Homo sapiens: one gene and its partners. The protein of the gene in region 2 purifies or fractionates together with the protein of the main gene of each other region. This does not show direct contact. Each region holds a gene or a part of one and is shown on either strand. Other genes may lie near its edges. The genes, in order: ARMC8, TLE4 and PPM1B.

Evidence for each region.
Region 1: the proteins of TLE4 (region 2) and ARMC8 purify together in Homo sapiens (affinity purification with mass spectrometry; 2 studies listed by BioGRID and IntAct, with this or other methods). This does not show direct contact.
Region 3: the proteins of TLE4 (region 2) and PPM1B purify together in Homo sapiens (affinity purification with western blotting; one study listed by BioGRID). This does not show direct contact.

What each region holds. Positions count from the first base shown.
Region 1 is NC_000003.12:138,242,690-138,246,348, reverse strand, and holds part of ARMC8 (armadillo repeat-containing protein 8), read right to left. Parts: intron 1,262-3,659; coding exon 1,166-1,261; coding exon of another isoform or gene 1,100-1,165; exon of another isoform or gene 1-1,099. UniProt on the Homo sapiens protein: Component of the CTLH E3 ubiquitin-protein ligase complex that selectively accepts ubiquitin from UBE2H and mediates ubiquitination and subsequent proteasomal degradation of the transcription factor HBP1.
Region 2 is NC_000009.12:79,724,616-79,727,483, reverse strand, and holds the end of TLE4 (transducin-like enhancer protein 4), read right to left. Parts: intron 2,448-2,868; coding exon 2,340-2,447; 3' UTR 602-2,339; downstream 1-601. UniProt on the Homo sapiens protein: Transcriptional corepressor that binds to a number of transcription factors. Inhibits the transcriptional activation mediated by PAX5, and by CTNNB1 and TCF family members in Wnt signaling.
Region 3 is NC_000002.12:44,227,836-44,231,594, forward strand, and holds the end of PPM1B (protein phosphatase 1B), read left to right. Parts: intron 1-2,157; coding exon of another isoform or gene 2,158-2,166; exon of another isoform or gene 2,167-2,577; coding exon 2,578-2,883; 3' UTR 2,884-3,637; downstream 3,638-3,759.

The DNA of each region.
Region 1 (3,659 bases), on a different chromosome or scaffold from region 2:
AAAATGATTTTCATAGGGATACACTAAAAACACTTCAAGTCAAAGTATCTTGTTAACTGAAATAAAGTGAGGTACATGGAAACATTCAATTTATTAGTTGTGCTTTTTGCATTGATTTTAAATCAAAGCTACTCACACATCAAATCTTATTGCTATTACTTCAGTTTCTTCAAGAAATGGTTCCTTTTCAAGTTATTTCAACAAATGTAAGGTTGTTCCATACTCCTCTTTCTACAGGCCTGAAGAACTTCTCTGAATCATGGTAAACTCTAATACTTTGTGATTTCTCTCACAGTGCTCCTTAAAATACTAATGCAGATGGAGAGATTTAGTAAATCATCATGTTCAGTAAATAATGACTAATTTGCTCTTTCTGCTATGGCTCCTCAAGACAGAACATGTGGTTTTGCTCTCTGATGGTCTTGAAAGCCTTGTGTAGAATTTATTAGGTTATACATGTTTTTGAGTGGTAAGTTCCAGCTTTTTGGTTTGTGGAAGGAGCCAAGTCAGAGCTTACTTACCACTATACTCCTCATCTAGAAGTATTCTCATCAAGAACATGAGTTCAGTGTTAGACTAGGCTTTAGTAACATAAGGGTGCTATACCAGTGCATACATTTTCTGGGGAGCTGGAAAATTCAGATGACCACTCACTAAACATAAAATCATCATTCCACAAAGATTTTATTCACATTAAACTTGCACAGTAGCAAAAAAAATCAAAACATAAAACTAAGCCACATATCAAAGAACAATATACAATAGAGATTTGAATTTCTCAATAGCATTGGAAGGTATTTCCATAAATAACATTTACAATTCTAATGTTAGGACTTTCAAGGTGTCTGAAGCTTCACAGTGCTAGAATTGATTTTTATCAGAACACATGCAAAAATGTGCAACATAATAATTCATATTAATGACACAAAAAAAAAGCACGCCAGTTATTTGTCATTCCAGCACGGCCATGCCACTCTATGTTCTAAAAACAAACAAACAACCCCCCAAATCCGGGTCCCATTCATTCTTCAATTATGCCTTTAGTCACTCTGCTTTATTATATTCAAACAGTCACTGTTAGTGCTCTTCACCACGACTTTCAGGTTGACGTCACTCCCTGCCTGCTGGCTGTCAGGACTGGGGGACGCCCCTCTCCCAGACTCACCTTCTTCCGGATGTCTTCATCATTTGCTCCAAGAGAGGCATAGAGCTTGAATGCAGCCTGGCGGAGTTCGTGAGCATGTTTTAAATCATGATCAAGCTATGGGGAAAAAAAGGATATGTTCCAACTCAGTCCATAAATTCAACTTTCAATAACATTAACTGAGTTGAAGAAAAAAAAAGTTTACAACTTTTAGATTTTAGTGAATTTCCCAGTCATTAACTACATTTCCCAGTTATTTTTGGATTCTGTTCACATAGCACTGAGACTTTGCAGTGTTCGTATCAATGTGACCTAAAATGCACACAATATGCTTCCATTTAAAAGTGAACACTATATTTGACACTGATATATGAAAAACCATTGTGAATCTCTGACTCCGAAAAATTCAGTGTTCCTAAATGGTAGCTTTACTGGCACTAATGCTTGCTTGCAGCAGCTCTTTGAAATGTTCTCCTTCAAAAGAAGGCACACCTGGACTTCTCTAGCCCCAGACTACAGCTGATAACCTGAATGAAATCGCAACAATGTCTTTAGGAGGGTTCCCTTAATTTTCTGAAACATTAAGAGTAGTGCTGGCCTAATTTTGGCATTTAAAAAGCTTTTAGAGGCCGGGCGCGGTGGCTCACGCCTGTAATCCCAGCACTTTGGGAGGCCGAGGCAGATGGATCATGAGGTCAGGAGATCTAGACCATCCTGGCTAACACGATAAAACCCTGTCTCTACTAAAAATACAAAAAAATGAGCTGGGCGTGGTGGCAGGCGCCTGTAGTCCCAGCTACTTGGGAGGCTGAGGCGGGAGAATGGTGTGAACCCAGGAGGCAGAGGTTGTAGTGAGCCGAGATCGCGCCACTGCACTCTAGCCTGGGCAACAGAGCGAGACTACATCTCAAAAATAAATAAATAAATAAAAATAAATAAAATAAAAAGCTTTTAGAAACAGAGAACCCATTGTGAAAATGCTTAACAAACCGTATACTATGGTAACCATTATTATCTATTACAGTTATCTGAGATTTATGTTGGGTATGGGTTTTTTCAAGAACATTATCAAAATTATCAGCATGAAGCAATTAATGGTATCTTTAAACATGCATAACTAATTATCAACTCTTCTATAAACTTGATCACCAAACTACTGTAAAGATAAAACAGAAGCATATTTTCAGGATACTTTCAATGACTGACTATGACCAAGTAACTATACAAAGTCTACCAATAATATAAATAACCTCGTAACTAAAAGCCTTAATGTAATCATCCAAATGAATACCACTTTTCCCAAAGAAGTTACTTTGGAAAGGTTCACTCATCCAATGATGTAGGTGTTGTTCATAACATTCTGAGACCCTCTTTTGAAACTTCCTAAAGAGCTAACTGGTATTATTAGCTAGAAAACACTGACAGTGGTATAGCTTGATCAATGATGAGACTTTTAGTTGTCACTGACTGTGTGTGAAGATGGAGAAATTCAGTTGGGTAATATAACGTAGGTAACAAAAAATTCCACAGAAAGCAAAAGACAATATATATATTTTACATATATATATAATTTGGGGTGGCTCTGAAGGCAATTCTTAATAGTTCCAAAACTTCTGTTCAAAGCAGACACTGATGGATTATAGGAAGAACTTCCCAATACAGAATACTCACTTTGATAAGTTCTAAAAGTATCTACTCTTAAAGTCTTAACTACATTCTAGTCATAAATTAAGATATAATACTGACTTGAACTAACATATCATGAAAATCACAAATTTATTAACATGTGAAGATTTCTCTTTACGGGTCTAGTGTCTATACTTTTCGGGTCAGAAACCTTTGGATAATCCATCATCAAAAATAAAGATGACAAAACAAACTATTACTCAAGTTTGGTATTACGATGTCATTTTTAAGGATTATTGTTGTTACAGTTTTACTCTGATGGAAATGAAATGGAAAAACTAACAGAAGGGATAATCTACGTACTAGTTAAATGATTTGCATATGCATAGGCTACATGTTCTTAAAATTGTTTCCTTACTCTCATGGCCATCAAAACATTTTATTTGCCTTCCTGGGGTGGTCAACTCAGGGCGTTCATGAGGCAGTAGCTAAGGGTTGCTCATGTATCTTTGTATTGGTAAGATACAGTGTCAGTGTGAAAAAATGACCAGAAGGAAAACAGACAAGGCAACTGGTTAAATGTATGTAACCCATCACTTCTACTGGAAAAACACCACTACTGAAAGAAGAGCAGACACATAAGTTTAATACCCAGAGAGTAGAGTACATTACTAATACAAATACCAGTGAAGGTTATTTTAGGCCCTTCTTAAGACAGAGTAAAGATATACCCTTAATAGTTTGCTTTATTTTCAAAGTTAAAAGCCAAATGAACAACTGCCTACCAAATGAGGTTTTTTGAAACTCAAAAGCATGAGGGAGAGGTCAAAAGGAGAATAGTTACCATTGGAACCACTGGCATGAAAAATACAGTTACATTCATGAAACA
Region 2 (2,868 bases):
TAGATGATCCCTCCAGACTACTGTGGGGCTTCCAATCCTCCTACTTAGTAGAACCTTAAAATGTCGGATTTTTGAGTCCCAGCACTTTAGAATTCTTAATTTAAACTCCTCTTTATACTGAATCTTCATACACCCAACCAGTAGCAGCCCAAGAAGCCTGGTGTAAAGACCTCAGTGTGTTATGCTAGAAATGCTTCCCAAATCCACATGGCTGGCAATGGTTTACATTGGCTAACTTAAAGCCCGTGTTGATGTGTCTAGTCCAATACGGTAGCCATTAGCCACATGTGGCTACTTGACACTTGAAATGTAGTTTGTGTGACTGGTAAATTAGATTTCTAGTTTTATTTAACTTTAATAAATTTAAAGAGCCACAAATGCCTAGGGTAACCATATTGAACAGCATAGCTCTAAAGCATCAAGGGTTTGAGGGACATGATAACCTTTTGGTAAGCAGTATTTTTATAAATCAAAGAGGTACTCAATAAATATTTAGCACCAACTGGTCACTGTTAACTTCTATCACCTACCTTTTCTAGCTCCTCTCAAGTAAAGACAAAACCAAAACAAAAACAGCAACAGTGAAAAAAACCCACATTACTTTAACAACAAAAAAAACCACTTTACTTTAACAACAATCTCCCTTGAAAAAACTAGGCATTTTTAATATATAGGAGTGGCACAGCCAAAGATAAAAAATAAACTAATGTCATCAAGACAAAGAATTAGAAAAATAAGCATACTAGAAGTTATTTATGTTTAATGCTTAAAAGTCTGAATTCACAAACAATCTACCATTATAGAAGTACTGGTGGTCAATACAATGCATTAGAACTATGTACAACGCACAGTTTAGTATCAAAATCTTTCTACACTGTAGAGTTTTACGAAACTGTTAATGACATCAAACACTAAGCACTTAAGACACCATTTTTTTTTTTCTGCTACCACATTAGGAACGTCAATGGACAGTCCATTTCAACTTGCAGCATCCATCCATTTCTAGTATGAAATTAAGTAATTTTCTACTTATACAATAAAGTATATCTACACGGTTCTTTTGATTTTGATCCATAGCAGCAAAGGCACTGTACATCAGCAGATCCACAGACTTAAAAGATTTTTAAAGCATTCAAACAAAAAATAATAAAAAAAGAAGTCACATATTATAGTTTAACAGCAACAACAACAACATAAAAGATAACACAATGTTTCTGGCACAATGGCACAGCCTGTGTCCATTTCAGGGACATCCAACTAAGACATGGAAAGAACCGGAGGTAAAGAAAGCAAGTCCTCATCCCAGGAGAGAGTCCATTCTTTGTGTTTTTCAGAGGGAGGTCTCTGCAAACCCTCCTCTGCTGTCCTTGTTTTGTAAAAGACTTAACTTGCACAGCAGTGGGAGTCCTCCCCATAACTGTGCAGCTCCCAAAGAGCATGCCACAAAATAACCCATAATTTCTCATAACAACAAAACTGACTAAAGATATATATATCTCCTTTTGCAAAGAAATGTGGCAAAAATATCCAGAAGGGAGTAAGTTCTCTCTTTGAGGCCAAATTTAATTTGTTCATCTGCCTATAATACAACAAAAAAAGGGAACTAAAAACATATTACAAAGACACTTGTCAACGAGTCAAAAAAAGAAAAAAAGTCCAATTACTTTTATCGAATATAATCTAAAGCTATAGATATATTGGTTAACGTTGTCTAAATAGATCCAAATGAGTATGAGTTGGCCTGTTGTGTTCTAATTGTTCAGCCAAATTTCCAAAAGTCTTTAAAAGATGTAGAAAACAAAAACAAAAAAAACCTAATAACAACACAGCAACATATTGCTTCCATGTGTAATTATACATTTCACATCTCTATACAGTCATCAGTCTACACTTAGTGACATTTTAAATCAATTATTTTAAACCTTCCTTTCCCCTCCTTTGCCAAAAAAAGGGGGGGAGGGGTATCAAATACAACGCACCTTCATTATCAATGCAGGAGCAGACAGCTTTATTTAGTCAGTCATTGTTAGAAAGCCTTCTTTAAACAAAATAAATATATTACAGATATAATACATAATTAAAGATTCTTTTCACTGTTAAGTATGCTTATTCCATGTTCTTCCAAGTAGACAGCTGAAGATTTGGTATCACAGGTTTTTAATGACTATTCACAATTCAATAGCAAGTGGGAAGTGAGGTTAAGAAAGGGGATTAAACTCCACAACTGCAATGAGTATCTGAAATCCTTGGTTTTAGATGCGGGGATGGGGGTGAACAAAAAGGATGACAGAGCAAAGTGCTACCAGGAGGAGAAGTCCAGTCTGCATGAAGATTTGTCTTTAATAAATAACTTCATAAACTGTGGCCTTCTTATCCCCAGAGCCAGTGACAATGTATTTGTCGTCCACGGAGATGTCACAGCTAAGCACCGATGAGGATTCTTTGGACTAGGAAAGAAACATATAATCAAAAATGTTAAATACTGAAAGAAAATCCCATGAGTATGGAGGACTTAGAGCAAATGCAAATGTAATGTGCTCCTTGACCAAACAGAAAGCCCAGTCAAGGAAAGGTGAAAGGTGGTCATGGACAGTACTGCTGCTTTTTTTTTTTTTTTTTTTTTTTTTTTTTTTTAATAAGACAGGGTCTCCCTCAGTCACTCAGGCTGCAGTGCAGTGGTGTGACCATGGCTCACTGTAGCCTCGACCTTCTGAGCTCAAGCAATCCTTCCACCTCAGTCTCCTGAGATGCTGGGACTACGACACTGATGTGTCCAATCACACCTAATTTTCAAACTTTTTTTGTAGAGAGAGGGTCTCACTAAGTTGCCCAGGCTGGTCTCGAACTCCTGGGCTCAAGAGATCCTCT
Region 3 (3,759 bases), on a different chromosome or scaffold from region 2:
TTGCCATGAGGATACTTCCCCGCCCCATCCCCACCACCACCCCGTCTGAGGCAGGAAAACAAGCACTTTTTTTTTCTTTTTCTTTTCTTTTTTTTTTTTTTTTTGAGATAGAGTCTCACTTTGTCACCCAGGCTGGAGTGCAGTGGTGCGATCTCGGGTCACTGCAACCTCCGCCCTCCGAGTTCAAGCGATTCTCCTGCCTCAGCCTCCCGGAGTAGCTGGGATTGCAGGCACTTGCCACTGCGTGCTGCTAATTTTTTGTATTTTTAGTAGAGATAGGGTTTCACCATCTTGGCCAGGCTGGTCTTGAATTCCTGACCTCGTGATCCACCCGCCTCAGCCTAACAAGCCCTTTTTTTTTTTTTTTTTTTTAAGAGGGTCTCACTCTGTCGTTCAGACTGGTGTTCATTGGTATGGTCATGGGTCACTGAAGCCTCAACCTCCTCGACTTAGCTCAACCTCTCGCCTCAGTTCCCCAAGTAGTTGGGACTATGGGCGTGTTCCTTTTAAACATTTTTTGTAGAGATAGGGTCTCATTGTGTTTCCCAGGCTGGCCTAGAACTCCTGACCTCAAGGAATCCTCCTACCCGTCTCCCAAAGTGGTGAAATTGCATACACGAGTCACTGCTCCTGGCCAATGAGGGCAACTTTTTAAAAAATAACATTCATCTGCTCTCATTTTTCTAATAAAACATTGCCATTTATTATATGGCTTTATTAGTGTTATCTTTGTTGCAAAAGTATATGTAATAGTCTCTAAAGATGGTTAAGAGTTTGTGTCACATCAACTGTATCAATAACCTATTTTGTATTTTATTTTCCCAATATTTTAAGATGAAAACTTCCAAATGTATTTAAAAAGGGGATATGATATGTTGGAACAGCTGTATATTGTCTCTCTAGATTCAACAACTGTTAACATTTTGCCATAGTTGCTTTATTTTTCTTTTTATATCTACTGTTTTTTTTCTTTCTTTGACTGAACCCTTTGAGAGAAAATTGCAGACATCATATTTTACCTGTAAACATTTAAGCATGCAGCTCTTAAGAATGAAGATATTTTTCAGCCAGGCACGGTAGCTCACACCTGTAATCCCAGCACTTTGGGAGGCCGATGCAGGCAGATCACCTGAGGTTGGGAGTTCGAGACCAGCCTGACCAACATGGAGAAACCCTGTCTCTACTAAAAATACAAAATTAGCCGGGCATGGTGTCACATGCCTGTAATCCCAGCTACTCGGGAGGCTGAGGCAGGAGAATCGCTTAAATCCTCGAGGTGGAGGTTGTGGTGAGCCGAGAACATGCCATTGCCCTCCAGCCTGGGCAACAAGAGTGAAACTCCATCCCAAAAAAAAAAAAAGAACGAAGACATTTTTCTGTATAACCATAATACCATTATTATACCTAAGAAAATTCATTTTTTTAAATTTATTTTTAATTTTTGTGGGTACACTGTAGGTGTATAAAAAAATAAATTGTATAATATTGAATATCAAGTTTAAATTTCCCTAGTTGTCACTAGAGTGACTATTGTAATTGTTATTTTGAATCCCAGTCTAATCAAGTTTATCAATCAAGCACATTAAACAAGTCTTTAATCAGTCAAGCCCCTCACCTGTTTTTTTCCCCTTGAAACTGACTTTGAAGAATCTGAGCCAGTTTTTTACAATACGTCCTGCATTCTGAATTCATATGATTGTTTTCTCATGTGTGCTCTAACTTGATCCTCTATTCCCTTTTTTCCTGTAAACTGGGAATTAGCATTATTAGATTCATTCTAAACATTTTTTGGCACGAATACAGGACATGACTGTACTTTATAATGCATCATATCAAGAGGCACATACTGTAAAGATATCTTTATTTTAGTCTGTCGGCTTAACTGTGATCAGCTTGGATGATTAGAGCTTGTTCTGTACAGTATTAAGTAGTTACTATTGTAGAAACCTGTAGATTTTCCAAAATTCACTAAAATATGAAAGGATTGAGTAGTTTATTATTCATACTGAGAATACTTAATTTATTTTTATCTAGAGATGTTTTTATCAAAATAAGAGCAAAAAGTAAATACAATTTTTATCCGTAAAAACTCTAAAATCTTTCAAAAATCTGTTTAAATCTATATAGTTTTATGTTTTGTATTTCCTACTTATTTAGCAGAAATGATGAAGAAACTGTTCTGATGGCCTGCTTTTCTGTCCTTTTCCTACTGCTTTAAACATTGATTTTCTTTTGTACTAAATCATATAGCCAAATATTGTTTAAGTAAGTCAGTTTTAGGAAATGCTTGTGTTGCTGTTGAATTATAAAAGCTGAGTAAATTTCAGATTAAACTTTAAATGACTGTGAAATAAGACATAAACTAGTTAATGGTAATTTGCTTAAAATGACTTGAGATTATTATTGGAAGTTTTTATTAATTGATACAGGTAAGAATTGATATTTAATAAAATGTTCTCATGCTTAGACTATATTACTTTTCGGTAGAGAAATTAGTATTTTGCTGTAATGTGTTATGAAATACATGTGATATCCTAGTTTGTCTACTGACACTGGGGTCTTGAATCTTAAAAAAAGGCCTCCGATGAAGCAGAGGAAAGTGGATCACAGGGAAAATTGGTGGAAGCTCTCAGGCAAATGAGAATTAATCATAGGGGAAACTACCGACAACTTCTGGAGGAGATGCTGACTAGTTACAGGCTAGCTAAAGTAGAGGGAGAAGAAAGCCCTGCTGAACCAGCTGCCACAGCTACTTCTTCGAACAGTGATGCTGGAAACCCAGTGACAATGCAGGAAAGCCATACTGAATCAGAAAGTGGTCTTGCTGAATTAGACAGCTCTAATGAAGATGCAGGGACAAAGATGAGTGGTGAAAAAATATGACTTTCCTTTTTGGTAATATTTTTGTGATCTTTGATGGTTTTTAACCTAGGAAGTGTAATGTATGCATTTATATAACTGTTTTGTTATTTGAATCTTGGAAAACTAGTTTTATTATATTCAGATAGCCTTGTTTTTTAAAAAGGCCTTTGCATACACCTTTATGAGATAGTGTAAAATTGACTATTTATAGTACTATGGATTTAATGAAATTATATGTCATTTCACATTGTATGCCAGAAATTAGGCTACCAATTATGAATTAAAGTCAGTAGTTAAATTAATACTAGATAGAATTAGAAATTTTGATTAGAGAGATTATGCTATATTATGGAAAAACTTGTTAATGTAGAATTATACTGCTTCATATTATTTTACCTATTAGTACACTCATAGTTAGCTTTGTAATAAATTTATGTTTTCTTTAATAATTTTAGTTCTTCAAAGAATGGCTGATGCTGGCCTGTAATTTTTCTTTCAAGGATGATAATTTGTGTGTTGTTTGATTTGTTTATATTTTACATCTCTGTAGTTTTATTTTTAGAAGTTGTGAGATATTGGATGTGTGGCTATTTTTCCTTTCTCTGTATTCTTTATGAAACATAACTTTTGAAAAACCTATGTATTATTCATACAGCTTTGGTTTGTATATTCTGTATAGCCTAACTACACACATCAAAATGTATGTCAACCAAGTGTTTAGAATGAAATTATAAGTGTTTAAGTCCAAATAAAGCATGTGATGTGGAATAATCTATGCATGTTGTACTTATTTTTGAATTAATTTTTTAAAAACAACCAAGTTTGGTATATTGGAAGAATACCCATTAGAAATTCATTTGTATTTATATAACATTTAGAACACTTTTGGCTTACCTT